4 separate regions of the Homo sapiens genome follow, and regions 1, 2 and 4 are each linked to region 3. Evidence: fine-mapped QTL for protein levels in blood plasma. A gene starts in region 3. Each other region holds a variant in brackets. All regions are shown on one strand. Distances are from middle to middle.

The links. PIP is the chance, under the fine-mapping model, that this variant and not a neighbour inherited with it causes the effect. Protein levels are from antibody-based Olink assays in UK Biobank. Linkage for the fine-mapping came from a reference panel and not from the study's own genotypes, which makes the PIPs less certain.
Region 1: its variant is fine-mapped to the plasma level of the ESM1 protein (UK Biobank, PIP above 0.99).
Region 2: its variant is fine-mapped to the plasma level of the ESM1 protein (UK Biobank, PIP above 0.99).
Region 4: its variant is fine-mapped to the plasma level of the ESM1 protein (UK Biobank, PIP above 0.99).

Annotation. Positions count from the first base shown.
Region 1 is chr5:55,201,697-55,209,803 of GRCh38, forward strand. No RefSeq gene overlaps it. Among named protein-coding and RNA genes, the nearest start is that of MCIDAS, 22 kb to the right of the region's middle. The variant A/G (reference allele first, on the strand shown) is at 4,333.
Region 2 is chr5:54,898,542-54,906,648 of GRCh38, forward strand. No RefSeq gene overlaps it. Among named protein-coding and RNA genes, the nearest start is that of ESM1, 83 kb to the right of the region's middle. RefSeq lists a silencer at 1,131-1,288. The variant T/C (reference allele first, on the strand shown) is at 4,406.
Region 3 is chr5:54,982,502-54,990,606 of GRCh38, forward strand. ESM1 (endothelial cell specific molecule 1) reads right to left here and starts at 3,092. Exons shown (of 3, transcript NM_007036.5): 1 at 2,716-3,092. The coding sequence starts at 3,016.
Region 4 is chr5:55,021,632-55,029,732 of GRCh38, forward strand. GZMK (granzyme K) reads left to right here and starts at 2,625. Exons shown (of 5, transcript NM_002104.3): 1 at 2,625-2,755; 2 at 3,029-3,176. The coding sequence starts at 2,692. It overlaps LOC102467081 (a long non-coding RNA gene), which reads right to left and starts at 2,538. Exons shown (of 3, transcript NR_104662.1): 1 at 2,298-2,538; 2 at 997-1,081. The variant C/G (reference allele first, on the strand shown) is at 5,017.

The DNA of each region.
Region 1 (8,107 bases), 220 kb after region 3:
AATATATAAAGAACTCATACAACTCAATAACAAAAACACAAATAATCTGATTTTAAAGTGGGCCAGGGATCTAAAAGGACATTTCTCCTTTTCCTGTCCAACAAGCACAGGAAAAGATGTTCAACATCACTAATCACCAGGGAAATGCAAATCAAAACCACAGTGAGATATTATCAAAAAGAGAAAAGATAACAAATGTTGGTGAGGATGTGGAGAAAAGGGAACCCTTGTACACTGCTGGTGGCAATGTAAATTGGTACAGGAATTATGGAAAACAGTGTGGAGAGGTCCTCAAAAAATTAAAAATAGGCCAGGTGCGGCAGCTCACGCCTGTAATCCCAGCACTTTGGGAGGCCGAGGCAGGCGGATCAGGAGGTCAGGAGATCGAGACCATCCTGGCTAACACAGTGAAACCCCGTCTCTACTAAAAATACAAAAAATTAGCCGGGCATGGTGGTGGGCGCCTGTAGTCCCAGCTACTTGGGAGGCTGAGGCAGGAGAATGGCGTGAACCCGGGAGACGGAGGTTGCAGTGAGCCGAGATTGCGCCACTGCGCTCCAGCCCTGGTGACAGAGCGAGACTCCGTCTCAAAAAAAAAAAAAAATTAAAAATAGAACTACATGTGATTCAGAAACCCCTTTTCTGGATATATAATCTAAAGGAAAAGAAATCAGTAGCTGGGGCCAGGTGTGGAGGCTCACACTTGTAATCGCAGCACTTTGAGAGGCCGAGGGCGGGTGGGGGCAGGTGGATCACAAGGTCAGGAGTTCAAGACCAGCCTGGCCAACACAGTGAAACCCCAACTATACTAAAAATACAAAAATTAGCTGGGCATGGTGGCAGGCGCCTGTAATCCCAGCTACTCGGGAAGCTGAGGCCGGAGAATTGCTGGAACCTGGGAGGCGGAGGTTGAAGTGAGCCAAGACTGCGCCACTGCACTCCAGCCTGGATGAGAGAGCTAGACTTTGTCAAGAAAGAAAGAAAGAAAGAAAGAAAGAAAGAAAGAAAGAAAGAAAGAAAGAAAGAAAGAAAGAAAGAAAGAAAGAAAGAAAGAAAGAAAGAAGGAAGGAAGGAAGGAAGGAAGGAAGGAAGGAAGGAAGGAAGGAAGGAAGGAAAGAAAGAAAGAAAGAAAGAAAGAGGAAAGAAAGAAAGAAAGAAAGAAAGAAAGAAAGAAAAGAAAGAAAGGAAAGAAAGAAAGAAAGAAAGAAAGAAAGAAAGAAAGAAAGAAAGAAAGAGGAAGGAAGGGGGAAAGAAAGAAAGAAGAAAAGAAGAAATCAGTAGCTTGAGAGGATATCGGCACTCCCATGTTCATTGCAATATTATTCACAATACCCAAGGCATGGAAACTACATAAGTGTTCATGGACAGATGAATGGATAAAGAAATTGTGGTGCACATATACAGTGGAATATTATTCAGCTGTAAAAAAGAACATCCTGCCATTTGTGACAACATGGATAAATCTGGAGGACATTATGCTAAGAAATAAGCCAAACACAGAAAGACAAATACTGCATGATCTCACTTATATGTGGAATCTTTAAAAGTTGAACAAATTAGGGAAGAGGAAACAAAATTGTCTTTGTTTGCAGGTGATAAGATTATCTGTGTAGAAAATCTGAAAGAATTGACAAAAAAAACCCTCTTGCAACCAATAAACAATTATAGCAAGGCTGCAGGATACAAGGTTAATATTCAAAAGTTAATTGCTTTCTAATATACTAGCAATGAACAAGATGCAATAAACAAGTGGAATTTGAAATTAATAACACAATATCGTTACTTTAGCACCCAAAATACATACAAGATCTTCAAGAGGAAGACTACAATACTTGGATGAAAGAAATCAATAAAGAACTAAATAAACAGAGAGATATCCTATGTTTAAGGTTAGGAAGACTCAATATTGCCAAGATGTCAGTTCTTCCCAAGTACTGAGAAGATTCAACTATTAATCTATAGATTCAATGCAATTTCAATCAAAATGTCAACAGCTATTTTGTAGATATCAACATACTAATTATAAAGTTTATAAGGATACAAAAGATGCACAACAGGCAACACAATATTGAAGAAGATAAAGCTGGAGGACCAACACTACCCATATTCAAGACTTACTATAATATTACAGTAATCAACACAACGTGGGCTGGGTGCAGTGGCTCATGCCGGTAATCCTAACACTCTGGGAGGCCAAGGCTGGAGGATTGCCTGAGCCCAGGAGTTCAAGACCAGCCTGGGCAACATGGTGAAACCCCATCTCTACCAAAAATGCAAAAGTTAACCGGGCGTGCTGGCAAGCATGCCTGTAATCCCAGCTACTGGAGAGGCTGAGGTGGGAGAATTGCTTGAACCCAGGAGGTGGAGGTTGCAGTGAGCCAAGATCACGCCCCTGCACTCCAGCCTGGGTGATAGAGTGAGGCTTCATCTCAAAAAAAAAAAAAAAAAAAAAAAAGACATTGGAGGTATTGATTAAAAAAATAGATGAATAGATCAATGGAACAGAATAGAGAACCTAAAAATAGATCCACAGAAATATAGTCAACTGATCTTTGACAAAGGAGCAAAGGCAACACAATGGAGAAAAGACAGTCTTTTCAACCAATGGTGCTGGCACAACTAGACATCTATGCAAAAAAAGTAATCTAGTCACAAACTGTACATACTTTACAAAATCAATTCAAAATGGATCATACTTCTAAAGTAAAATGCAAAACTATAAAACTCCTGGAAGATAGCATGGGAGAAAATCTAAATGATATTGAGTTTGGCAATGATGTCTTAGATACAATACCAAAGGGATGGTCCATGAAAGAAAGAATTGGTAGGTTAAACTTCATTAAAATTAAAATTTCTGCCAGGTGCAGTGGCTCACGCCTGTAATCCCAACATTTTGGGAGGCTGAGGCAGATGGATCACTGAAGTCAGGAGTTTGAGACCAGCCTGGCCAAAATGGTGAAGCCCTGTCTCTACTAAAAATACAAAAATTAGGTAAGCAACTGTAATCCCAGCTATTTGGGAGGCTGAGGCAGGAGAATCACTTGAACCTGGGAGGCAGAGGTTGCAGTGAGCCGAGACCGTGCCGTTGCATTCCAGCCTGGGCAACAGAGTGAGACTCTGTCTCAAAAAAAAAAATTAAAATTAAAATTAAAATTAAAATTAAAATTTCTGCTCTGTTAAAGACACTGTCTACAGAATAAAAATACAAGTCACAGATTTGGAGAAAATGTTTACAAAGGACATATCGGATAAAGAATTGTTATCCAAAATATAGGTAGAACTCTTAAAACTGAACAATAAGAAACCCTAATTTAAAAATTAGCAGAAGACTTTAACAGACATCTCAGCAAAAAAAAAAACACAGATGGCAAATATGCATATAAAAAGATGCTCCACCTCATATGTCATCAGGGAAACACAAATTGAAACAATAATGTGATACAACTACACACCTAGTAGATTGGCTAAAATCCAGAACACTGACAATACCAAATGCTGGAGAGGATGTGGAGCAACAGGAACAACAGGAACACTCATCCATTGCTCGTATGAATGCAAAATTGTAGAGTCATTGTGGAAGACAGCTTGGCACTTTCTTACGAAACTGAATATACTCTTATCATACAATCCAGCAATCACATTTCTTGGTTTTATTCAAAAGAATTGAACACTTATGTCCACACAAAAACATGCACACAGATGTTTATATCAGCTTTATTCGAAATCAAAATTGCCACACTTGGAAGCAACCAAGATATCCTTCATTTGGTGAATCGATAAACTGTGGTATATCTTAATGGGATAATGGGATATTATTCAGCACTAAGGAAATGAGCTATCAAGTCATGAAAAGACATGGAGGAAACATAAATGCATATTACTAAATATGCCAGCTGTGGTGGCTCACGCCTATAATCCCAGCACTTTGGGAGGCCGAGGCAGACAGATCATGAGGTCAAGAGATTGAGACCATCCTGGCCAACATGGTGAAACTCCGTCTCTCCTAAAAATACAAATTAGCCGGGGATGGTGGCAGGCGCCTGTAATCCCAGGTACTTGGGAGGCTGAGACAGAAGAATCACTTGAACCTGGGAGGCGGAGGTTCCAGTGAGTCGAGATCGCGCCATTGCCCTCCAGCCTGGGGAACAAGAGCAAGACTTCGTCTCAAAAGTGAAGAAGAAGAAAGAAGAAAAGAAGAAAGAAGAAAGAAGAAGGAGAAGGAGAAGGAGAAGGAGAAGAAGAAGAAGAAGAAGAAGAAGAAGAAGAAGAAGAAGAAGAAGAAGAAGAAGAAGAAGAGGAAGAGGAAGAGGAAGAGGAAGAGGAAGAAGAAGA[A/G]GAAGAAGGTCTGAAAAGGCTATATACACTGCATGATTTCAACTACCTGACATTCTGGAAAGGGCACAATTATGGAGATAGTAGAAAGATCAGTGATTACTAGCAGTTAGGCGAGAAAGAAGGCTGGATAAGTGGAGCACAGAAGATTTTTGGGACAGTGAAAATATTCTGTATGATACTATAATGGTGGGTACATGTCCTAATACGTTTGTCCAAACCAATCAAATGTTCACCACCAAGAGTAAACTCTAATGTAAACTAAGGACTTCAGGTAATAATGATGTGTCAATAGGTTCATCAACTGTAATAAATGTACCACTCTGGTGAGGAATGTTGTTAATGGGGGAGGCTATACATGTGTGGGGTCAGGGAATATATGAGAAAACTTTATACCTTCCACTCAATTTTACTGTGAACCTAAAATGACTCAAACGTAAAGTCTACTTTTCAAATCACAAAATATCTCCAAGCAAAAAGGAATTTGGAAAAAAGCTATAGAAACAATATAGTTAATAACATTATATGGGGGTTCTTTCCGCTCAGAGACCCCTCTCTCTATAGAGAGAGCTGTTTCTCATTCTCTTCTCTTCTGTCTATGAAACCTCTACTCCTAAACTCCCTGTGTGTGTCCGTGTCCTAAATTTTCCTGGCGCGAGATGACAAACCCCAAGGTATACATCCCAGACAACGTAGCCCCTTCATCTTGGGCCCTTGTCCGGGATACCAACGTACAACATTCATCCAAATGGTGAGTAGAGCAGCGGACTCCAACTCTGTCATTTCACTTTAAGGTTCTCGGCCTCCATTTCAGAACCAAATCAAACCAAATACTGGGCCCCCTTCAGCCATTTAAAAACGATTAGCATGGCTGCCAGCCTTGAAAGACTTGGGGGACAGGCTTGCTGGGGAGAACATGCAGAATCCCCAGCACCCACGGCTTGCAGGGCATGTTGGCCATGTTTGAAATAGCTTCCTTTCACGGAGGACTTAGCCCTCGTGTGGGTCTGGAAGTAGTCCTGAGGCAACTGAGGGTTTCTGGCGGGGGCTACCCCGTGGCGTTATCCAAAGGCTTCTGGACTGACCTCAGCCTCTGACCGCCCAATGGCGTTTCGGCAACAGGATCTCCAACTTTTCTGTATAATTTCCTCCTTTACTGTCCGTGATCTTCGAATAAAATCCAGTGCATCCACTGCCAGCCGGGTCCTTTCCGCTGCGAGACCCCTCTATACAGAGAGAGCTGTTTCTCTTTCTCTTCTAAAGATCTCCCGTCTCTTTTTACTAGGAAAAAGAAGAGGGGCTGTATGCTCCTTAGTTGTTGGAGTCCTTTTGCCCTATACCCTTCCCCACCTGACAAAATGACTGTTCCTTTGCATGGAGAGTTTTAGTTGCTTCTCTTATACACACGCAGCTCTTCCAAGGTTCAGGGCTCACTTCCCTGATGGTCACTCACCACCTGGAATGCTCCTCCATAGCCCCCACCCTGAATGATGCTTACTTGCAAAGTTTTCATCATGTTTTCAAGTTTTGGATCATCTCCCAGAATTTTGACATTAAAATGACTACAAGTCACTAAACCTCAGTTCCAAGTCAGAGTTTTCCCAGGAAAGGGAATTACTAATTGGTTTATCTTGCATCAAGAATCTCCTGGATCCAAAAATCAATGTAATATAATGATAGCATAAAGGAGAAAAGCAACACGATTATCTCAATAGATGCAAAAAAGTTGGCAAAATCCAACACGCTTTCATGTTTAAAAACACTTAATAAACCAGGAAAAAAAGGAAACTTTCTTAACCTGATAAAGGGTATCCATGAAAAACCCAGAGCAAACATCATACTTGATGGTGAAAGGCTGAATGTTTCCCCCCAAGATGAGAAAAAAGACAAGGATGCCTGCTCACCCCATTGCTACTCAACATTGCACTGTAGGTATGCACATGGGCAATAAGGCAAAGAGAAGAAAGAAAAAGAAGGAAGAGGAGGTGGGCAAGAGGAGGAGAAGGAAAACAAGGAAAAGAAAAAGAAGAAGGAGGAAGAGGAAGAAGAAGAAGAAAGGAGAAAGAGAAGAAGGAGCAGCAGCAGCTATTTAGATTGGAAAGGAAGAAGTAAAATTATTTTGTATACAAAAAATCCTAAGGAATTCATTTAAAAGACTACAAGAATTAATGTACTAATTTAACAAGGTTGAAGGATACAAAATCAATATACAAAAATCAGTTGTATTTCTATGCATTAACAATGAACAATCTGAAAATGAAACTAAGAAAACCATTCCACTTACAATAGCATCAAGAAAAATAAAATGCCTAGATATAAATTTAACAAAAGAGGTGTAAGACTTCTACACTGAAAACTACAAAACATTATTGAAAGAAATTAAAGAAAATCTAAATAAAGAGAAAGATATACCAAATTCATGTATTAGAGGACTTAGTATTGTTAAGAAGGCAATATTGCCTACATTGATCTACAGAGTCAATGCAACTCCTACCAAAACCACAGGTGACTTTTTTTTGCAGAAAAGGATATGTTAATCCTAAAATGTATGTGGCACTATGAGGGACCCAAAATTGCTGAATCAATCTTGAAAAAAAGAACAAAGTTGGAGAATTCACACTTCCTAATTTCAAATTTTACTATAAATCTGCAATAATCAAGACAACATAGTACTACTTTAGGGATGGATACACAGATCAATTGAGTAGAATTGAGAGCTCAAAAATAAACTCTTACATTTATGTTCAATTGATTTTCAAAATGGGTGTCAAGACAATATGCGGAAAGAATAGTCTCCAACAAACCATCCAATGCAAAAAGATAAAGTCAGACATCCCATACTATAAACAAAAATTAATTCAAAGTGTATCATAGGCCGGGTGCAGTAGCTCATGCCTGTAATCCCAGCACTTTGGGAGGCCAAGGCGGGTGGATCACTTGAGGTCAAGAGTTTGAGACCAGCCTTGCCAACATGGTGAAACCCCGTCTCTACTAAAAATACAAAAATTAGCTGGGCATGGTGGCAGGCGCCTATAATCCCAGCTACTTGGGAGGCTGAGGCAGGAGAATCACTTGAACCTGGGAGAAAGAGGTTGCAGTGAGCCGAGATTATGCCACTGCACTCCAGCCTGGGCGACAGAGTGAGACTCTGTCTCAAAAAAAAAAAAAGTATCATAGACCTAAATTAACTAATAAAACTATAACATTCTTAAATGAAAGCATAAGAATAAATATTTATGACTTTGAGTGAGGCAATAATTTCTTAGTTATGAGATGAAAGGCACAATTAGCAAAATAAATAAATTGGACTACATCAATATGAAAACATTTTGCTGTAAATGATACCTTCAAGAAAGTGAAGAACAAACCACAGAAAGGCAGAAAGAACACTTAATTCAACAATGAAAAAAAGACAAAAGAAAAAAGAAAAAAACTAAAAACAAGAGAAAAAGGAAAAAAGAAATAAAAGAAATTTAAAAAAATTTTAAAGAACAAAAAAAATTCAACAATGAAAAGACAAACTAATTTCTATATGGGCAAAGGATTTGAAAAGACATTTCTCCAAGTAAGATATACAAATGACCAATAAGCACATGAAAAAATATTCAAAATCATTAGCCATTAGGGAAATGGAAATGAAAACCACAATAAGATACCACTTCACACTCACTAGCATGGCTGCAATAAAAAAGACAGACAATAACAAGTGTTGTTAAGGATCTGGAGAAATTGAAGCCCTCATACACTGCTGGTGAGAATGTAAAATGGTGCAGCTGCT
Region 2 (8,107 bases), 84 kb before region 3:
TAACCATCTGGTATACATAGATCCTTATTTATAGTTTTCCTTCCCACTCTAATGTAAACTCTATGTGGCAGAGACTTGGTATGGTCACTGAGCAACCCCAATGCCTGCAGCAGTGCTTGGGCCATAATGGGTTTTCAATGACTATCTGTGGAATGAATGAATGAATGAATAAGTGGATACTAAGAGTATTCATGCAATGTCTGTTTTCATGAAATTTTGATAAGCCCTCATGATCAAATTGTGGAGATATTCTAAGAAAATAATTACATCTTGATTCTTTTGAGTAGGTGAATTGCCCCTTTTTTCCCCTCAGAAAAATCTGTTGGGCAGGTAAGCTACACTCAGTAGCTTAAGATGAGTCTCAATCCTGGGACTCAAGTGTTTTAACTCCAAATTCCATCCCATTTCCGTAGCCCAACATGTATCCTTTCCTTTAGCACAGAGAAAGAAGTCTTCTTTTGGAAAGCGTCATTTCCTTTCACTGTCTCCGCTTTCTCACCTCTTTTGGAGTTTAGTCTCTTTTTGACCAACCTCAACCCAGCCTCGTCATCCCTGCACCCGGCATCTTGTTACAGGCACTAGAGTTACTTATTCAGGGCAAACCTCCACTTGCCTCTAGATCCCATTCCCTTCTGCTTCTTCAAGGCGTCTCTCTCTCTCTTTTTCTTTCTCTCCTGCAATCTTCAATATCCCCCTCTCTATTTTTCCAGCTAAAAAGGATATTCTAATCCTAAAAATCCCTTTCCTGATATTATAGTCCCTTCACCATACCTAACTTCCCCCCAACTCTTCTGATCCAACTCTTTGAAGCACATGATGTCCCCTTCTCTTTGCACCCATTCAATCAGGGCAGTATAATTTCTGTTTCCTGCTGAGCTACTGAAGGTAGGATGAGATGAGAGCAGAAAGCGCCAATCACCACACCTGATGGTACTCTCTGTTCTCATCTCGCCCTACATTCAGTAGCATTCAAACTGACTGCTCTTTCCTTGAAATCCTTTCCTTTCTTGGCTTCCATAAAGCAACAGGCTCTGTGTTAACCTCCCACTTCAGTGACTGCACCTGCTTAGTCTCCTCTGCTAGCTCCATGTCCTCTAAGCCATCTCTGCACTCAGAGCTCAGCCCTACCTGCTCTCTTCTTCTCCATCTACAAATTTTTTCCCGCCCCATGGTTTGAAGTACTACATGGAAAGGACTCCCAAATTCATACTTCTGGTTCTGAGGGGCCCCCTGGGTTTCAGCCTTACTTGTGTATCCAAAGCCCTTGTTATGGACCAAATGTCTGGCCTTCTCCCCCACCTCCCTGCCCAAATTCAAATGCTGAAATCCTAACCCTCAATGTGATGGTATTAGGAGTGGGGGCCTTGAGAGGTAATTCGATCTTGAAAATGGAGCCCACATTAATGGGATTAGTTTCCTTATTGGGAGAGACCAGAGAGCTAGCTTCCTCTCTCTGTTCTCTACCATGTGAGGATACGATGAGAAGACAGCTGTCTACAAACCAAGGAGAATGCCCTCACCAGACACTGGATGTGCAGGCACCTTGATCTTGGACTTCCCAGCTTCTAGAACTATGAGAAATAAAATGTTTGTTATTTAAGCCACCCAGTCCATGGGGCCTTATGTTATGACAGCCTGAACTGAATAAGATAGGCCTGCTTGCCATTTTCCCCCAGTTGTCAAATAGTCATCTCAAAATTAATGTGACAAAAATGGAAGCCTTGACTTCTGCTCTGCAAGCCTGGTCCTCCTCTCATCCCCTTCATCTCTGTAATAGCACCACCATCTATCTCATGGTTCAAGTCCAAACCTTACGAATCAACACTCATTCATCTCTTTTCCTTATACCCAAAGTCCTGTTAGCCCTACATCTAAACATGACTCAAATCAATCTGCTTCTCTCCATCTCTGTTGCTGCTCTAATCCAAGTGACCATCGATGCTGTGTTATCTCCCCAGGGTCTGGACCAGCAGCTGACACAGCATGTACTCAATAAGTAGTTGATGAAGAAATGAAGAAATTAATATGAAATTTTTTTCTATTTGAAGTTGTCAGTTTACCATTTTCATAGGAGAGTAATGGAAAGCCAGCCAAACTATTTTACAGCAGAACTCAGAGACCTCAAGGAAAATTTAGAAGTCAGTAAAGTGTGTATCTTAATACCCCCAAATGCCAGTCCTGCTTTTGTTCCCATGGGGACCCTTCTATTCCTCTGCCATCTTCATAATTTCTCAGAGTAAAAACCTACCCTGAAGAAAGGGGCTGGAATTCCTCACACAGAAATATAAATCAATGATAGCCACTTCAACGAGTGTCCTCACAGAGCATTTGGGAGCAAGACTTTACAATGAAGGAAGAAAGTTAAAGCAAGTCAGTGGATTGACAGCAGCCAGTGGGGATTTCTTCTGTTTCTTCTGACAGGCAGCTCTGGAGACTCAAGGCCATACGAGGTACTTCCTTCAGCCAAGGTTAGATGCAGGATTAGTCCATTAGTCCAATCCATACAGATGTTCATCGTAGGCCACACAGTAACAGGAGCAGTTGCGAAAACTGCGGGAGCTGACATTCTGAATGACACAGGGTTTCTCTCATTCTTCTAGCCCTGTAACCCCATCATCCCTCCTTCCTATTTAGTAATGGGGTGACAGCTTCTATTTTTACAAAATAGAAAGAATAAGTTCTGACTCAAGAACCCATGGAATAAGGAGTGAATTTCCTTCCTGCTTCTCTTCCTTTCCTATCAGTGAGTCAGGACGAAAAGCCAAGTCTCTGAAACCAAAGCCCTTAGCCACCACATTATGCTACCTCCCATACCCTGAGTCAAGGTAAATACAAGGTACTGTAGGTACCTGCACTGTGCCCGGTACCTACAAGGCATCTGTCATGCTCAGCTGCTGGGTAAACGGCGTCTGATGCAGCAGTAGCCCAGAAACAGCTGTGGCGTGTCCACATCCTCTGTCCAGGGAGGTTGCAGCTCATGGCTCATCATTAAACCTTTCTCAGAAGCCAAGAGACCCTCCTGACTGTGACTCACTGTATCAGACAGTTGCTTCACAGAACACAGTCCAGCCTCCCTCCTCCTCAGAAAGCCTGTATTGCAAAATGAGGCTTTTGAACAAAACGTCTTCACCAGCTCCCCGTCCTGCGTTACCATCGAGCAGCTGCTGCTTGCACTGCTGCAAACTAGCCTAAGTCCATTTGGCCATTCAGCAAACATCAGGCTATTTTTCTGGTAAATATCAAAAGCTGATGATCCTCTGGAGGTTCTAAGTGGGTGGAGTTAGACGTTCCCTTCACCACACTCTCACCATCAGGTGCAGAACAACAAAAGGGGCAAATTCCACCTAAAGTCACAATTCAGTCCCACAGCCTGCATGTAGCAGAAGAGGTCCCACTCTCTGCCTTAGCTGCACAATCACCCCTTACATGAAAGGCACATTCCAGGGTGAGTGAATGCTCATCTTTGTAGTCAAATTGGTGACAAAAATCCTCCATGAAGCCCGTGAAAGAAGAAGCCAAGGAATTTTCAACCTGGAAAGCAGTCGTTAAAGTCCTGGGCTGACCAGATTCTTAACCTTCATTCACATATGCCACTGAATGTTCGTGAAAGGACAGTGAGTCCTGTACTAAGCTTCCATGAATTTCAGCACTTAAAATTATTTCTGACATCCCTTCTGCTAACTTACTAATGCTCTCAGGCTTTATTTCAGTAAGTGCCAAGAAATTCGCTTTTGAGGTTTAAGTTTCTGTTTAGGATTCTGCATAGCTAATTAATAACCTCATGATTTCAAAGACTATTAATCACCTCTAAAATGATGGATTTAACTTGTACACAAAAATTATATAGTTTATACAAATTACGTTATTTGTTATTGTTGCTTTATTATATATATTAAAGTGTATAACATGGTGTTTTGATATACTTATCTTGATACACGTATGCATAGTGAAGTGATTCCTACAATCAAATGAGGTAACATGCCCATCATCTTTGTTACCTTTCTTTTTCTTTTTTGTTTGTGATAAGTACCTAAAATCTGCTATCTATCTTAAACACATTATTTTAAAGTAAATTAACCTACAGGCCGTAGAACATTGAATGTCTGCTGTTAAAATAGGAATAAACACTAATGTTTCTCACTTCTGGGTAGCCCTCATCTTCCTTCCAAAATAAAGCAATTGGCATTCTCTCTTTCTCTCCCCCTCTCTCTGGCACGCGTACACATGCACACACACAGATTTTCAACACACTTCTCTGCTTGAATTGGAAGAGACTGGGAAAATTAGACAACAGCTGTGTACTTCCAAGAAGTCTCCTATTTCTCTGGCTCAGCACAACTTGTGATTTAGTTCATTTGCTCACTGTGCAGCATTTCTCAGAAACCACAAAGAACATGAATGCAGG[T/C]GGCATGACTGGAAGGCTCAGAAAGTGCTCTGTGGTCTCTGTATGAGTTTGAGGTTTCAGATTCTACAGATGGCACATGTGAAACTGACACTTCACTGCACTGCATCTCTGGCTCTGTAATTGAGGGGCAGCTGCTTCCTGGTAATGCAATAAAACCCAAGGGCCCAAAAGAAAGGCTTAGAATACTCCTCTCCCCTGCCCTCAACTCCCAAGTGCCTTTCCACCAAACTGCTGTGTGGGAAAGTCACCTCTCCAGCCTTGTCACTCCCGTACACCTTATACTCTTCTCAACTTTCATTACACCCTGCGGGGTGACCTGGTGATTTGAGTGCCTGTATCTTTATTAGTCATAAAATTATGTCTAATATTCTAGATGGCCCCATGGCACCTTGCATAGTTTAGGTTCTTCACAAATATTTGTTTCCATTTTACCTATAGCTCATTCATTCATTCATTTATTCAATGATTTTTGGACTCAGGGTAGAATATTCAAAGGTATATTCAAGGGGGGAGGATTTCAAGGTGGATTCATTTTTTAGCATTAAGTTCTGCTTAATGGTGGTTTTGTTTCAAGTATCCAGATGCAGCATTAGAGGTTAGAGACTAAAGACAAGGATAACTTTATGGGAAGTTGGTCAAGCTCAAAGCTATCATACCTCTTTCCAAACATGTCTCTTGGATAGATAAGAAAAATACTAATGGTAATGACAGCAACAAAAACAGGACGATTAGCATTTCAGGAGTGTTTACTTTTTTCAGGCACTGCTGTAAGTGCTTTACTCGCTCCACACAGTTGCTTTATGAGGGAAACACTATTAATGTCCTCCATTTTACAGATAACATGGTGCCTGGCATCCTGCTGCTAGAGATTAGTATTTAGCAAGTTTAGACAATACCCTCTGTCAGGCCATTCCCTCCTTTTAAATGTGCACATCCCTCAGCATGATGATCCCCTGCAGTAGTCCAGGTGACAAACACGCCTTAGTGTAAAGCAGTTTACAAAATGCCTCACTTCCTGGTAATCTGCACTCTTGGAGGATTTGGAGGAGGAGCTCTGAAAAGAGGGGATGGAATGGCTGCAGAGAGAGAAGGTGGGATGGACACCTATATCATATTGGATAGACTTGATCAAAGCCACCTAGGCTGGGAATCCTGTAGCTGGGGTTTAACTGGAAAATGAATAGAGACTTGGCCAAAGCAATTTTTGTTTCTTTCTAATGCTGTGTCCATTGACTCCAGGCCAAACAAGAATCTTTTGGGAAAGGGCGTTTGAGCCATAGAACAATGGACTGACTGATGTCAATCAAGGTCAGTTTTGCCTTCCAGGGACATTTGGCACTATCTGGAGATATTTTTCATAGTCATCACTGGGTGGTCAGGTGTTACTGGCATCTAGTGGTTAGGGGTCAGATAGGCTGCTAAACATCCTACAGTGCACAGGACAGCCCCCTTATCATGAAGATTATCTGGGCCAAAATATCAATAGTACTGAAGTTGAGAAACTCTGCAACACATTAAAAAGGTGCATCTGTACCATTGGAATTTGAGTCTGGGCTTCTGAGCAGTGATGACTGCAGAGGGGCACCCTCCAGTGGCCAGTATGAATCATGAGCCTAAATCCCAAAGAGTGACTCCAGTTCTCTATCCTTTCCCTGGTTATTTGCTCAGCCTTCCATGGAAGAGCTAGCAGGGATGTCCTGTCCTTTCTGTCCCCTCCTCCCAGGCACACACATTTATGAAAGTATGGCGCACGAGCCTTCACCCTTCATGATGAAACTCCTCCAATCTTCCAGTGGATTTTCACTTTATGCAATTAATCTTATGTGAACAAAAAATAAAAAATAAAAAAAAAGGAGAAGGTACACAGTTCCCTTCCCTGAAGAGGGAACATGAGAATCAGGGAACTCTTTATCTTTCACACCGACTAAACACACCTGAATTTGTGTTTTCTCTTTGTTGACTCTTTTGGCTTCTTTTCATCTGCATTCAATGTGGTCACCTGTAAGGCCATAGCCAGCAAAGTGGTATCTTCATTGCTCTCCCGGGAATGTTAATGAGCTTAGCAACAACAAAATCCTTCTGATTTACTAAACCAGTGCACCTCCTGACTTGTGCATAAACCTCCATGACATTGCATTGAAATTGATGCTCCATTATCAAAGCAATGATAATTTGAAAGGTTTCTTTCTCATTTCTGTAGTTTTTAAGCTCTTAGATAATTGCTTTGACTCTTCTGTGGGATCTGTATAAAATGCCAAAGTTAGTGAGAAGGTGTAAGCGTGAGAGTCACTCCAGGTCCCTCCCGTGACTGACATTGTCAGAAGCAATTTGCCCTCCCAGACTTCAGATGGTGTCTGCATGTACCAAGCCAGGTGTGTGCTGACTTTTAATCAGGCCACTCAGCCTAGTTGACTGAGGGAGATGCAGATCCTCCCAGCCTCTCAGGGAGGATTCTTTGACCAAGTGACTAATAAAACACCCATGCAACAGATGTTGGACTACCCACAGCCTGTGGCTCTCCTACCTCTCACATAGGCCACCTCACTCCTACTGAACTGGGGAATGTGAGGAGGTCTCATGAATGGTTTGCCAGCCTGTGGGAAGCTCTGAATCCATCCACTAGAACACTTCAAAGATTTTGTGTTCAAAGTCACCCTGGAAAAACAATCACCAAAGTGGTTCATTCATCCCACCAGTAACTTGATCACTGATGCTTCAGAGGAAACCAAAGAATTCAGCACTATTTACTACCTTGTGAAGTATAAATCACTGCGCCTTCTTAAAACTGTATGTGTAGGAAAACGAAGGCCAGAACATGCTTAGTTTCAAAGCATTTTTTTACCTAGTTTCTCAAGCCCCCTCCCTTGTTCAAACATCAACTCAGCAGGAATGACTGATTCTAAGAGTGCACCCACCCTTCCCATGAGAACGTTCTGAGAAATCATCCACCGGCCGTGCCATGTAGCATCACCGCATGCCTCTAAGTTTCCTTCTCATGGCAGCAGGAGGCAAGAAACATCTTGAACCTTCAGGGATTGAAGACTAATAAGGAGGAATTTGCATTGTCATCTTTAAAAATAATAAACCTAACTGATTGCTTTAATGTTTCAAAAAAAAATTTATCCTGCTTCTAAGAAACAAAACTTCTGAAAAGACTGCCATGAGATTGAAAATCTTGCAATGGAATGTGCCGCTTGAGGGCGCCATTAGGCTTTGAGAAAATAACTGTCTGCTACTTTAAGTGCTGTCTTTGGAGCCAGCCCTGTGTCCAGCAAGCTCTATGAAATAAAACTGAATTTAGATCTCACTTCTAGGAAAATGAAGGGAAACAGGAATCTAGTCTCTTTAAACTCAAGTGACATTAACCAAAATTCGGTTGACAAGTTCTAAATTCCCTTGTACAAAGCTGTCTTTACCAGCCAAATGAAATAAAAAGTGATACTGTGCTAAAAGATGCCCTGTGTATTTTTGTAGGATTGACAGTTGCTTAAGATCAACATTCCAATGTGAAATGAGAAAAATAGTGGGAATAAATTGCATAACAGAAATCTCCTGATTTAAAACTGGAAACCTAAGCTGTTTGGGTTCCATGGGGAAAACTGCTTTACTTGGGTGTTTGACACTCCCAGAGAAGGAAAAGCTGATATGTAACTCGGCTTTTTTATCAGGCTTTGTTTGTCCAACACAGGTCCTACTTTCAAC
Region 3 (8,105 bases):
AATTGAACAGACATATATGCATCAGCTCCTCAAAGAGTTTTTAAAATGTGATGCTATCTTTGAATCTACTGTATTCACAGATAATTTACTATTTTAAGTGTATAGGAAAGGGCTTCAAACTAACCAGGGAGAGAGCTATCATCCTAGCTCACCATGAAGCAATCAATCTTCCATCTGCTCCAACCCTTATCAAGTTCCTTATTTGTCGAAACGGCATGTCATACAACTTGCCTGACTCCCTCAGTAGTTAAGAGGGCTCCCTAGTAAAATCCTCTGCAAGGCTAACATGCAAGATGCTAAATGAGCAAGAAAGCTCAGGGCTTATACACCCTGAGGGTTTGTACACCTACCAAGAACTAGAAGCTTTTAGACCTCCAGTGCTTACACTTATGCCAAAACATCCTACATTGAAATAAAGAGGACAAAGTCGTTTATTTAAAATGCATAAAATTATTTAAAATGCTGTTTTTAGGATAAACAGCATCTCAGTAGACTAACCAACCTTTAAAAGCCAGCAGAATAGATATAGAATATTCTCTTGTTGTGAAAATACCTTGTAAATGTACAATCACAGGTGGGTAAAGAACAAATTGTGAGCCATCTGAGTCTCTAGCAGTCTAATACTCCACTAACTGACCAAGTAGATCATCAATGAGCTATCTTTTTTTAAAGAGATCTATGAGTGCTCTTTTCAATATGGTTCAGATCACAGAGGAACCTGGTTTTGAACACTGTTCTCTTTGCTGGGAAGAAGAGATCTTAAAAAGGGATCCTGCAAAGGCCTGTTCCAGAAAAGCACACAGGATTAGGATTTGACTGTGCCTGCAGCGATATTGAAAACTAAAACTTTAGCCAAATTCCCAGAGATACTTCTAGTGTATCCCCTGATGTACTGAACAGTGCTGGGCAGATAGTAAGTGTTCATTAAATATGTGTTGGCTGCTGATTGTTAATCTGGGCAAGATGTTCACAGACATCTGAATATTTAGAAGACATTTGGATACGCAGCTGAAGTTTACAGTTTTCACGTGGATGTTCTTTTAAAAAGCTGAAGAAGGGAGATGATTGCCAAATGTATTATCTCTATCTCGAGTTGCTAAGGCTCACAAAGTCTCCTATTTCCAGCAGAGAGAAAAATGCTTAAAACTAGATTCATCAGCAACCTGAAGAAAGCCAAAAGAAGCAATCTTAAAGATCTTTTTAGTATCTTGATCATTCAGTAGAATACTACAGTGCTAAAGACTCCAGATGCCACACAGCTTGTTTCTTTGCCCATATGTAATGTACATTTACAATCACATGTACAAAGGCATATTATGCCAAGAGAAAAAGCAATCCACTGCATATACATGCTATATCATAAGTATGATTGTGTTAACCACTTCCTCCCTAATTTCCTTATGTGAAGTACTGTTTTCTTGGTCAATAAGCCCCATAATTTACAAAATATACAGATCCTATTCAGTTGAAAGAAACATGCATATGTGTTCACCAAACAAAATATTTTCTCAATATTCTATTTCTTATTGTATATAAACAAAAATAAACTAAGCAAAAAATAAAACTCTCCTAATACTTTAAGAATTTGTTTTTTTAATTTTGTATGTCTTGCAAATTAAAAGATGATTAATTTATACATTATATGTCTAAGAAGTAGGAGAATTAATGAGATTAGCACAATACTGGATAAATATTATTCATAAAAAATGTATTAAATACATAAAACATAATAATTATTTAGAAATTTCTCAGTCCTTTTTATAATTTTGAAAGCTTCCTGGTATTACACAACTGATGGATGGGGTTATAGCATGTGTTGCTTCTTAATAATAGCTCTTCATAATAAGATCATGAGATATCTATACGTAGAGTATTTTTAAATCATCATTCTTTTTATTCTAAACATTTTTAAAATGTTAAATATTTTAAACTAGTTACTATGTTTAAAATAAATTCTACAAATGCTTAACTACATTATTTAGCTAAAATTTCAACCGACGAAGTTTTTCTTTAAGTGTACAAGTGGTCAACCTCATTCTTTACAGACTTCCAGTTTTTATTTTTCTCTATTGTTATTTTTCCTTGTCTTAACACCATCTGCTATTTTTCCAGATGACCAAAACCTTTATAAAGTCAGATGAGGTTTGTTTTATGCTTCAGGGGACCCTCTTTGAAGAGTGAGTTATTTTGTTAGATGACTTAAGCTCACTCTATTCCATAAAGTGCATTTGTGTTTATCAGAAATATTTGATCTTGAGAGTGGCCCTCCATCCTGTGGACCCTTTCAAGATCAAAGAATCACTAAATCTGGGGGCTAGAAACCATTCCAAGAGGTTATCTAGTGCAGACCTTTGTAATCGCTGCCTCGCAGAGGAGAGAGCACCTAAGCCATCCTTAACAGATTACCTGTCAAGTTTCTAAAGTTTTCCAGAAAAGGAGCCAACACAATCTTCCATTGCAGCTTTCTTTTTGCGATCTCCTAAGGCAACGAGTAAAATGCCACACTTCTTTCTGTGCCTTCCTGCACACTGGTTTCAGTTGCTACTTGGAGCTATCCTTCAGTCTCTACCCATGACAATACCTGTGTGGTGCCTTGTCAAGAATCCACCTGCCTTTTCCCTCTTACTCTTGAGGAGCAAAGCCACCTCACCTCCCAAGCTGGCTAAAAGCTCTCAGCATGCCCCGGGAGGGGAGAGGTAAGGGGTCACTCTTTACCTTTGCAGATACCAAACTCTTCACCAAAAGGATCCTCCCCATTAGAAGGCTGACACCTCAGCCCCGGGCCACACTTCATGCCATCCATGCCTGAGACTGTGCGGTAGCAAGTTTCTCCCCGCCCTGCAGCGCACACTCGGCAGCAGCCACAGTCGTCGAGCACTGTCCTCTTGCAGCGCGGGCTGCTTTTGCACTCACTGCTGTCACAGTGTTGAGGGCAGTCCACCGCATAATTATTGCTCCAGGCGGCCACCAGGTGTGCAGGCACGAGGAGCGTGGTCAGCAGCAAGACGCTCTTCATGTTTCCCAGCTGCCTCCGGCTCGGCTCTCCAGTCGTGGTCTTTGCTGGTGGGAAGCAGCCGTCCAAACTGGTAGCTGAGCCTCTGCCTACACGTTTATGAGTTTTATACACTGGGTTGCCCGCATGCTTTCCCGTCATCAATTTCCTCAACCCAGCAGCAGCGCTGTCCTCCTGCCAGGCTCTCTTGTTTTGGTTTATGAAATCCAGGATGAAGGCTGGATTAACACGCTGCTGCCATCCAGGAATTGAAAAGCCCAAGCTGATGTCATCTGTTATGTTTAGATGGTTGTTTTGCATGAGGACTGAAAAACTCACTCACATCCGTCTCAAGGGCTCAAGGACGTCTGTGAAGGAGGGATAAAGAAGGTTGCACACCCTCCTTCAGGACGGGAATTGTTCTGACCCTGGCATATCACTTGAGGTGTAGCTTTGTCTCAGAGCCTCTGTAGTCAGGAGGAAAATGATATCAACATGAATCATCAGGACCGAAGAAGCTTCTTCAAAAAAAATAATAAACATTTGGTATTTCCCCTCAACAAATAGCTATGAGATCATTTGAAAGAAGAAAGGGTTATATTGTGTCTTTTCAATACTTAGAAGAAAGAAAATATTTTGATAGGGCTATTTTTTAAGACCCTCTCTTCCTTCCTCTCACCCCTCTCCTCAAATGTTATTTCTAAAGCAATTCATGTTACATATATCTAAGCCTATTGTGGATATAGCTGTGCTTCCAGTACAATGTGGAACTGCCTCTGAGAATTTCTTTTAAAATCAATACAAAAAGCCACAAGAGAGGTAAGATCCTTTCGGCACTGCTTCTGGGTTACTCAATTCTGGAAAAACTTATCAGTTGGACTTCTGATCCAAAACTTCCTCAGGGGAAGGCTCATCCATCACTAAGTCTGCTTGTCCAATGACGGAGTCCACCCAGAGCCCTTCCCCTCACCTCCTGGCATCTATCAGAGCCCTCACTAAAAACTGCCAAGCGCGGCAGCCAGCCCAAGGCAACAAGTGGCTCAGCAGGAAAATCAGAACACAGCCCCCAAGAAACAAGTCACAGGGAAGGGAAACATTACCCCTCAGGAAACAAGGTCTGCATGCTAAGAGGGTTACCGTGCCTAGGTCCCTCTGGGAAAACAGAGTAGCCCTCTTAAAATATCAACTGTGCCAGGGTCTTATTAAGTAAGGTTAAAGAGGAGAGAGGGGAGTTCTTACACCAACCACATGCCGAATTCCATGCCCCCACCTCACTTGTCAAAAGAGATATAGACTCACTGTCACTTAGTAAATAACAACCCAGTAAAGTGGGTAATTCTTGGTCTGTCACAAATGAGCTGTAAGAAATTCACAGGACTTCTCTTGGCCTCAGCTTCCTCTTTTGAGAATTGATGGTGTTAGGCTACCTGACCTCTAAAATTCTTGTTTCCCATAGAAGATGAGGCAGAGCGGGCATTGGATGTAACTTGAAGATCGGCTTTTGCAAATGCAATTTTAGGGGGACACAGGGAGTAAATTCAGAATACAGAGAATTGAGGCAGTAGGAAATGAAAGCAAGAGTTTTAGCTTTCAAATTTTCCAAATTTTTCATGACAATCCAATTTGAAATACTCTATCTCCCCAGAAGCACTTACTTAGCAGGTGGCACACTCTGATGTTTTCAGTAATGGGTAATATTTGTTGAGTTAATAGCTTAAACACTTTACATGCATTAACTCATTTGCACCTCATCACAATATTATGAAGTGGCTGCTATTATCATGCTTATTTTTTAAAAGAAGAAACTGAGTAAGAAAGAGGTTAATTTGCCTAAGGTCCCTATATTGAAGGGATGGATGTTAGTCTAATGTCAGAGCCACATATTCTATTGCCTATTACAATACATAATTGTGCTTTCATGGCCAATAGTTCCAATGGCCTAGGTCGCAATTTAGGCTGACCCTAGAAAATGTCCCTTGTTACTGAACACCACTTTCTGAGGAGTAGTTAACTGGAATAGTGGTTAATAATAATATCTAACCTTTACAGAGATCTGACTGTGTGCCAGATGCCATGCTAAGCAGTTTATGTAGATTACCACATTTAACTTTCAAAACAACCTCAAGAGCTAGGTGCTATTCTTATCCCCATCTTAGATATGAGAAAACTGAGGCCTAGAGAGGGTAAGTAACTTGTCCATCATCACACAGTTAGCAAATGGTGAAGCCAGGACTCCAGCCCTGAGACCAACAAGCTCTGGAGACTGGATTAAGGATTGTAAAATCAAATACATACAGGTGCCAAACAGGTGCCCAAGGTGGGTGACATGGTAAGCTATACTAGATGTAATACAGAAGGAATGGAGTGGATTTCGTCCTCCTGAATAGCACATAAAGACATGAAACTCTTCCACTATGGAAGATAAAGGGAAACCAAATTGATAATACCTTCAGTAAATGACAACTAAACAAATGTAAGTTGAGAGTACCAAATCCAAATAGTAAACCAAACTACAATGCACAGGTAAGTGCAGAAAATATGCCCAATAGAGTTCACCAGTGGTGGAACTATCTCAATACACAGTGCCTAACAACTCATTTTAGGGGAACCTTCAATCCCTCCAAGACCCAACAAAAACCATTTGTCCCAACACAATCCCTGTAAGATTTTTATCTAGTGATTTCTGTCTTCCCCAGAGCCTTGAGCCCAGATCAATGAATTCCATTAGGAAAGTTAGCAATGACCACAAAGGGTTAGGAAATGGGAGCACGAGCAACCAAGGAGCCAACTCTAAGCTGCATTAAAAAGCAATAAGATGATGGCAGAGCTGTTGATAGTGAGTGCATGAGGTCCACCCATTTCACTTGCTTTGTGCTGGGGACTGGAACATCTCTCATCTTGCTCTGCCTGTATATCAGTTGTCAAGTCAGAGTGAGAAAGGGCAAGAGGAATTGCACAAGATTTTCACAACTCCTAAAATGTAAGTTCAAACTAAGGTGGGTCAAACCATACCATCTGTGGATCCAAATGTTGCAGCATATGGTGTTTTGCAATGGGGGCAGAGAAATGATAAAACCAAATATCTATTTAACCCAGTATACCCTGTATACTTAAAATGCCACTTTGATTTTTTTCTTAAAGCTGGTATTGTGTTAGGAAAATAAGCTTTGGTAATGTGCATTAATATTTTGTGTTTATTTTGTACATTATGATTGCTTCTAACCAAATAACAAGGATTTTTTTCTGGATAGGTAAAAGTAGTCCAGTGGAAAGGCTCTGGGCAGATCCCAGACTCTCAGAAGGTGGTTTATGGTAAAGCGAATTATACCGTACTTACTGTGCCTTCCTAACAAACCAGCTCTACCAGAGAAGTCTGGTTTAAATTGAATTACAAAGGCAGACTTGAGGGCATAAAGTTTGGAGGAGCAAGTGGAGACATTTACATGCAGATTTTAGGTGATTTGGTTTTTAGGTTAGTTTTGGTTGTGGTTTTTGATACCATCTGAAAGTCTTCCTGCTTTGACACTAGCTGATAGCAATTTTGCATGTGCCTACTGCAAGGTCTAGCCCACAGCAGGAGCTTAATACTTAATAAACACATAAAAGGAACCAACTGTTTCCCAGAATCATCTTCAGATGATAGTAAGTTAAACGGGCATCAATGTGTTCCCTTTCTTTCTCTTTCCACCAGGAGAAGCAAAGTGAGGCCCAGATTCTAGGGCAGGCTAGGTTAAGCTGCAGAATGTGTTTACTTGTGGGAATGAGGTAGAGGTGTCAAGAAACAGCACATCCAATCCAAGAGACATCGAGGATTGGATGGAGCCTGAGCAAAGACTGTAGTCCCATTGCGGCAGTTCCTTCACAGCTAACCAAATTTGTCCTGTTGACCTTGGGCTTGGCAATATCACATCCACCCTGGAAAGTTCATGGGAGCCCCTCATAGCCAATAGAACTTGGTGAAATACTTCTGCCAAACTGGCTGGGATTCACGGCAGTCACAGGTCAGCTGTCAAAGCCCAGGGCCTGAGGAATCTTCCCAGAGCCTCCTGCCCTGAGTACAGTTTGCCTAGAAACAGCTTTACCACTGCCAAGATATGTGATCTTAGGCAAGTCACATGCCACATACCTTAGACCTCTCCTTTCTCCTCAGTACCTCAATAATAAGAGGGCCAAACAGGGCAACAGATATGAAACCATCGTGACTATTATTATCAAGCGTCTGATTTCTGAAGATTGGCTTCATTCTTTAAATGTGATCTTATGTCTTGGAGCAAATATTTTCCCAAAAGAAATCTCTCTAATTCTTTAAGTTTCTATTTTTAATAAAGACAATTTTAATAGCAAAGTGGAATTGAATGTACCAATATATGATTTACAGGCAATTTTCAAAAACTACACCTGCTTAGAAGAGCAAAGTGAAATGCATCTGCTTTAATTAGGCTTCTTGCCCATATGGGGGCTCTCTGATTTGTCTTGATGAGCAGGTCAACCTCGTAGGCAGCTGGGGTGCCATCACACAGAGCTCTGCAGGAGCCCTGAGTGTGAGGGTGTGTGAGTGACTGCAAGAAGATAAGGACAGGACACCCGCAGTGTCTGCTACAAACCCAGAATGTCTGGGCACCTCTCAGAGAACTTGGCACTATATCCAGATTTTTACTCCAATGGAGCCTCTGAGGAAGCAGCCACAGAGTCAGGTTGTTTTTTAACCCTGTTCAAATCTAGAAACTTCAACTTTGGGTTCACGCTGCTAGGAACTTTTTTAGAGCCAGGAAGTCTGGCTTGGAAACATGAAGAGCTCTTACTCACTGAGGTGCCTTCTTCTCCTCTTTGCCCCCAGTTCTGGCAGTTTCTAATGTGGGGCATCAAGGCAAGCTTTTCTTTCTAACAGCTAGCTCCTTCTCAAATCAGGTTCTGAATCTCGGACTCCATCAGCAAGAGATTCCTGTTTCACACAGCATCCCTCTAGCTGCAAATATGAACCCACATCCAGAAGCACCATGTGCCACCCTGACATGAGAAGCAATGTGAGTAGCAAAAGTAGCTCTGAACTCAGGACCAGAAGACGTAGGTTGGCATCCCAGTTTCATAATCAGCTATGGGTAAGGCACCAACC
Region 4 (8,101 bases), 39 kb after region 3:
CTGAGCACAGCCTTGCACTTGCTCAGTCCGGTACAGTTGCTGTAAAGCCATCCAAAGCAAACATGGCCCTCCCTGCAGCAGACTCAACAGAACAAAAACCAACACCCAGAAATAAATTAGATCGCCGAGCTCATCATGTTACACAGCCCACTGTTCTCAAATCCAGAATCGTGAATATAATAACAAATGATACTATTAACTGGCAAATCGGTCTAAAGCCAAAACCAAATAACTCATTACTATTAACCAACATGATTCTCAGAATTTTCTAGGTCAGCTACAAGAAAGAGTTATGAGACTCTTCCCAACTGAACTAAATCTCACCCATGTCTAATTACACGCAGTGTGTATGGCTAAATCCTTTTTCTCTTCTGCACAGCTAGCTTGTGTCTCAGAGCCCCTAAACCCCCAGGGACTTCTCAAAGGAGGCAGGCATGTAGCCAGGTTGAAAGGAACATAGAGCCGGGAGCCAGCACATAGGAGCTTAAGGGCCACCTGCTAGCTCGGTAATCTCAAGCAAGTCCCTGAATTTCAGTTTATTTATCCATAAAACAAGACTAATGACAACCACTTCCCTGGAAATACAGCTAAAAACGTTCAGCAATTTGTACAACGCTATGTGGACATTAATCCTTACTACTCAGAAATAAGCAGCTGAGAGATGTTTGTAACCATTCCCATTTCCCCCGCCACACACACACACACACACACACACAAAGCTTCGTCCTTTACAATTTATTTCTTCCTTAGAGTTTGGATCACTTCTACCTGTCACACACCATCTTCCTTACGATCCCAGCATCACTGGGATGTAGCAGGGAACTGACGCCATCCTGTCTGCCTTCCAATGTGGAACAATGGCACACAGTAGAGCATCCAAGGTACATCAACAGTGACAAAGATGACTTGAAAATTCACAGGGACATTTGAGTGGGAGTAATAAGTTTGGTTTATTAAGCTTGTGGCTTTTCTTAATCTGGCTCCTCCTTATCTCACCTTCTGCTCTGACAGGAAGTCACTGCTCTGCGTTGGTTTTGTTCATTCTGTTTAACATGTAGAAAGCTTTACTGTTGCCACACACCTGTACAAGGAAAGCAGGTTTTTTATAAAATTCTGTGTTCTGGGAGGGTACTCATTCACATACAACTTAACATACAGGGAGGTCAGGCAGGTGATTTGGTCTAGGTCATAAGCTGTGTTGCCTTGGGCAAATTACTTAGCCTCTTGGAACTTATTTCTTCCATTGTAACATAAGTTGTCCTGCTTTCCTCAAAGACATAGACATGAAACCATAAATGATCATATAAAAAGAATTTTGGAAATAAGGTATTTTACTTATATATTATTAAGTTATAATGAATAATACATAATTATAGTATTATTTTTTATTATTCCTACTCTTTGTGCTAGAAAACAATTTGAAAGGAGTCTCTTGCAATCTGCCGAGCATAATAGCTCTGGATTTTAATTCTCCTTTCTAAAATGAATGGAAGATAAAATGCATACCTCTTAAAAGAAAGATCTGTTGATTTAATGCAAATTTTGATCAGTGTTACTAGGAAGTGATTGGCATTCTGATGCGTGATCTGTTTGTATTCATTTTATATTTGCACTGCTGATCAGTGTCTGGCACAAACAGAATCTTGTAGAATCTTGAGTCTAATACCTTTTGTATTGAAGGCCTGGCAATGCATTGTCATCTGTTCCTGGGAAGAATTACAAAATGCAGTCCTTTATTTTTAAAAGACATTATTATTAAGTCCCTGGAAAAACACATGGCCATTTTCAATTAAAAATGAGTAAAAGAGAGACTCTGAATCAAAAATAGTTGCCAATGTTCACCTTTAACAACATTATGAAATCTCACAAAAATGTAACTAAAATTTAACCAAATTTGGGCAAACTTAGAGAAACGACATGAGTAGGGATGTTTGCTGCAAAACATATGGTTTTCTCTGGTTGGTGCTCAGGCTTTAGCTAAGCCACATTGTGAAGTAACCATAATCTGTGCAAGGTCCATGTCTCTCTTCATCATAAATCTATGTCCAAATGAAAAAGAGAGAAGAATGAAATATGATAGGCACCATTTTGTGCCAGGAAAAATAGTAAGTATTGCTTGAGAGCAATGGACATCTTTGAACTCTGTCTGCAACTTCATTACATTCTTATGGCATGGATATTTTTCATTTATAAATATTATATACACATATAGTATAAATTTTCTTTATAGCATAAGTACTCTGATACAGGTATTAGAGATGGTATCTCCAGATATGAGTTCTTTATGGCATACATACCTCTCCCAAAAAAGTGCTAAAAGCAATTAGCCGGATGTGGTGGTGGGCGCCTGTAGTCCCAGCTACTCGGGAGGCTGAGGCAGGAGAATGGCGTGAACCCAGGAGGCAGAGCTTGCAGTGAGCCGAGATCGCGCCACTGCACTCCAGCCTGGGCGACAGAGAGAGACTCCGTCTCAAAACAAAACAAAACAAAAAAGTGCTAAAAGCACAGACCTGAAAGTCCCCAAACTGATACATAACGTTTACACCTAGGTGTGAAAAAAAATCTTACCCCTAGAGCACCTGTGGTGAGAAAGTCAAAACTTACAAGAACAAAACTCAGTCTTCAGAATCTTCTTCCTTCATCACAGGATCAACACATTTCATCTGGGCTTCTTAAATCTAAATCTTTAAAATGACTAAGTTTTCTTCCTTTTCTCTGTTTTTCCTAATAGTTGGGGCTTATATGACTCATGTGTGTAAGTATCTCCTATATCTACATGTAAACATTAAATGAATTTCTACTGACTATATTGTTATATTATAGATGAAAATTATTTTCACAATCATTCCTATCTTTCTGAACTGTAATGTATTATACAAATTTTTCATCAGTAAAATTATTGTAGCTTTTAGGTAGGGTTATTGTTGTTTTTTAAGCTTTGAAAATAATATAGTGACTGTCATTGGAAGAATTACATGAAACAGTAGTTTAGATCTTTTGTGTGAAACCTTTTGGTCTACTTTTGTAGGTTTCAATATGGAAATTATTGGAGGGAAAGAAGTGTCACCTCATTCCAGGCCATTTATGGCCTCCATCCAGTATGGCGGACATCACGTTTGTGGAGGTGTTCTGATTGATCCACAGTGGGTGCTGACAGCAGCCCACTGCCAATATCGGTGAGTCCTCCACACTTTTCCAGACATGTGTTTTTTCTGAAAGTTATTATAGGTACAAGAGAAGCTTACCTCTCCTGAATGAGAATTTGATCTACTGTTAGCTTCTGTGGTTACTGACCAACTGGTGGCGTTTATTTACCTTCTTCCACATCCACGCTTTCTGTCTTGGGTTTTCCTTTTCAGAGAGAACTGAGCTGCTTTTCCCAGGCAAGACATTAGACAAATTCAAGTCCTCTGTATAATGCAGGGAACACAGCAACAGTAATACTTGAAGCAGCAGTACTCTTGACCTTGTTAGATCACACTGCTCAAAAGGAAATCAGACAACCTGAGCTTGCTCTGTGCTCTGAGCTTCCCCATTTTACAAAGGGGTAATAATCATATCATACCTGCTTTGTGGGTTTTGAGAATTAAATAGTATCTGTTTAAGTATTTTAGCATGCTTGGCACATTTAGTAAGCACAAAAAAATTGCAGCTATTATCATTAGTATTATACGCATGAGAAGCCTACTTTGCCACTCCTAACAGTAGCTACCTAACAGTAGCTACTCACCACTTACAACTTTCCTAGGTGGAAAAAAACAAGTTATTGATGACTTCTAGAAAGAGAAAGATAATGAGAGAGTTATTTTCTAGGATACTTAGAATGAAAGCTTTTCTGAAGACAGAGTAAAACCTTCCAAAGTCCATTTCAGCCTAGGATTCTCTTACTTCAGCTAATAAAGCACAAAACCCCTCTTGGGATGCTGCAACCATCACAAAAGGAAATGCCAGTAGAAAACTAATTTGGTATTTGTTGTTTTGTTTGTTTGCTTGGGTTTTTGGTTTTGTTTTTTGTTTGTATATATGTTTCCTTATGTTTCTTACCTAATAAGCTGAAATGGAGCCTTCTCCTTTTCTTTCACTTAAAGATCTCTCTTAGCTGTAATGGTTTGCTCTCCAGGCATTGTCTATATCTAAACAGAACAATTGAATTGATTTGCTTTTCTATGCTTTGGGGGTTTTGTCTGATTACCCCATTTAAATGGAACTGTTTGATCACAAATTGGAAGTTTTGAAGCCTGCAAACTGGGAGATCTTCTGCTATCTCTAAATAGCAAGCCACTGATTTCCAATTTAATATGGTTACTTCATTTACACAGGGTTCTTGCCCTCATAGAAATCACACTCTCATCCCCATCACTTCTCTCTTCTCCAGGGCATTTGCCCCCTCGAGATCAGAGAGACAGAGTGGGGAACTGTCAGCGAATGTTCATTTGATGCAAAATATGCACATCTTCAAATATGCTCATAATACACATTCAAATGGTCTATAACCTCCCCAGACACAGAGCTTGACTTCTAAATGTTCAACAAACTTTGGATGGAAAGAAAGAAATACACTGAAAGATCTTTCTTTCTTTCTTTCTTTCTTTGGCTAGGCCTGAAACATGGTGTATGAAAAAGTGCTTCACTAGCCATAAAGTGTTATAGGAAATTAAATAATATCACTAAGTTGAATTTTAAATTTTGTCAAGTGGATTTAACTCACGAGAAGCGGATTCCCAAATTGGGGAAAGAGATTATTGACAAAAGACTGGAGAGAGGTCTTGGAGTTTTTTGTGTTTTGTTTTTTTTTTCTTAAAACAAACTATTGCTAAATATCATTTTAAATGGCTGGGGTATAAAGAACTGCAAAATATGTAGATCAAATTTCCTCTACAGGACACTTGGGTGTAAAAAGTAGGCAGATCGGTGGTTGGAAAAATATTAAGCTTTATGAAATTCAAAATATTTACAAAATAGCTCAATGGTGGCTTCCCACAAATGTACTCCCCAGTATCCTGTGGGAATAGTTTG[C/G]CCCAAGCCTCTCTCTCAGCAAAATTTTGAAGAGGGCCAAACCTGGGAGTGCTCCCTTCTCACCAGCCATCCACACATCTCCTCCCTCAATATTCTGGCCCCTTTATTAGTTGCCATGTCAAATATAAAAGGAAATTGATAAAAAATGTCCTGTACAAACTTATTTTCAGCATTTTAACTTACCAGAAGCAAAACTCTCACCAGCTGTTGTACCCTGTTCTCCTGATTCTCTCCCAGGCCCCTCTCACAGAGCACTTCCTCCTGCCCCAACCTGCCTAGCAAGTTGTTAGATGGAACCTTCCACAGCCCCTTCCACATGGCCTCACTCCATCTCAAATGCTCAAGGCTCCTGGAACAAAATGGTTCAATGTTCAGGCTCTAGATTCAAGCCAACTGAGCTTTAATCCTGCCCGAATTTGCCTCCTGGAGGCAAAGGTCCTCAAGTTTATTCGTTTACCTGAACCTCAATTTCTTCATCTATAAAATGGGGATTGTCATAATACCTATCTCACCACGCTGTTGTGCGGTTTAAATGAGGGAAGCTTTGTAAAATGCTTAGCACAGAACACAAAGAACTTAATAGATGTTATCGAGTATTGTTATACAATTATCTGTGCCTTCCATGGTAATAACCAAGGAACTAATCTGATGTTGACGAGATAAGACTGGGAAGACCTCCCTCTCTGACAGCCAAGTTCTTCTCCCTCTCTCTTAGGCAAGAGAAATCTCCAAGACATAGGGACCCTGCCTTTGCTGCCAGACCTCAAGGGGCGGGTCTAAGCAGAACCACTGTTGAGTGTCCAGGCGCGCTGGCAGAGAAAAGAAGAGGCTTGAAGGGGGTTGGCACGGGGTTCAAAGAGGGATTGAGGAAAGAGCACTGGACTGGGAGTCACCAAAAGCCAAATTTGGGTCCTGATTCCCCTATTTATGAGGTGTGTCACCTTGGACCAGTCAGAGAACAATCTTTTACTGGTAAGGAATACACAGCCCGTCAGCTTTACCAGCCTTGAAAAAGGTTATTGTTAGGCTCAATGGAGACAATGTTTACAGATGTCTTCAGCAGACCCACTATAAGCCGCACTGTAGTTCTGCTCCATATATGAATCTCTTCCAGGAAAGCTCAGGGTGGGACTCCGGAAACCACATTTTAAACCAACACCTCCAGGTGATTCTGAAGCAAGTCTGAAGACTGCATTTGGGGAAATCCTGTGCTGTGCAACTGAAAAACACTGGCATTATTACTTCCTCTTTGTGTGAATTCAGACTTCAGTTTAGCTAAGGAGGTGGCATCCCAGAACTCAAGTAATTCCAGGTACCCTGTGGGCAGAAAATTTGACCTGAGTAGCACAGATTACAGTTGAAGGATATCTAGAAATTGAAAGGTCAGAAGGAATAATGGTCTGCTTGGGTTGTTTTTGGTCTTAACATGTCCCAGTGGAGACAAAAATAACCAAAACATTTCAAAGGCAATAACTAGCCGAGTAAATTAGTAAAAGACGAAAGAAACCCAGACATTTTTTCAGCATCCCTCCCTTAGTGAGAATCCACCCTCCATACCTCTCATTTGTACCTCATAGCCTTCTTTGTGTGAGTCATTTAGGCACGTGCCCACCTTTCTGTTAGAGCATTCATCCTGAAGATTTTTATGTCATCCTTCTCCTACAAAGTTTTGGGTTTAGTGGGTATGTTGAATTTGAATTCAAATCAATCCTAGGAAATCCAGTCCACATCCTATGAGAAATTTCCACCCGGTCCTGATTTTGCAATAGGCAAACTTTTCAACAAATAGAGCTGGAATTCCCAAAATAAATAAAAATAAACTCTTTTGGTAGAAACCAAAAAGTGGTCATTCCAGGCAGTCACAGCTCTGCCATAAGCAAACCCACTCTACCACAGGCATTTGCCATTTTCAAATCTGAAACAATCATGTCTTCCTTTTTCTGTATGTTTCTGTGCTCTTTGTAACTTTTATTAATCTTTATTAATCTATATGCATGAGTATGTGTGTTTTTACTGCAATCTACTTTGGTAGCTTTTCCAAGTAGCAAAGAAATAGTTACATGTAAACAAACAAATACAATTAAAAGATCTGAGGTGGACTTCATAAAGATAGACACTGTAATGGAATGTATCTGTAGTATACAAATGGCTCTACGGTTCTGCCAAAATCTCCAAAAAATTATTTCTACTTTATCACTGCTGTAAATGTAATTTTATCCAACAAAGAGTAAATCAGATCAATTGTGGCACTGTTGAAACACTGGTACTAGAACTGTGTATGACCAGAGATTTAAAAAGCAAACCTTGCCAGGCACAGAGACTCACGCCTGTAATCCCAGCACTTTGGGAGGCTGAGGCCAGTAGATCACCTGAGGTCAGGAGATTGAGACCACCCTGGCCAACATGATGAAATTCCGTCTTTACTAAAAATACAAAAATTAGCCAGGTGTGGCGGCACAAGCCTGTAGTCCCAGCCTCTCGGGAGGCTGAGGCAGGAGAATCGCTTGATCCTGGGAGGCGGAGGTTGCTGTGAGCCGAGATGGCGCCACTGAACTCCAGCCTGGGAAACAGAGCAAGACTCCTTCTCAAAAAAAAAAACGTTAAAAAAGAAAGCCAAAAAACAAACCTATTTCTTCACCTCACTCACCAGTTCGTATCCTCTAAATCTCCCCGATGGAATGGCTACTAACCTTAAAGTATCTTCATTTTAAATTAGCACTGTTTTCTTACCTTGAGGAAAGTTTTCCTTTCTTGTCCAAATCTTTGTTCTAATTGAGGGGACAGGACATATGGACATATCTGACTGTCATGTAATAGGCCTTACTTCCCCACATTGACCTGAGATGAAGTCTAGGCATGTGGGTGAGCAAGTGTAGGGTGGGGATCTTTGTGGTTTTTGTTTGTTTGTTTGTTTGTTTGTTTGTTTGTTTTTAAGAGATGGGGCCTTGTTCTGTCACCCAGGCTGTGACACTTCAGCCTCCAGCTCCAGGACTCAAGCAATCCCTCCTGCTTCAGCCTCTCAAACAGCTGGGACTGTAGGCATGCACCACCATGCCCAGCATGCACCAGTGTGCCCCTTAATGTT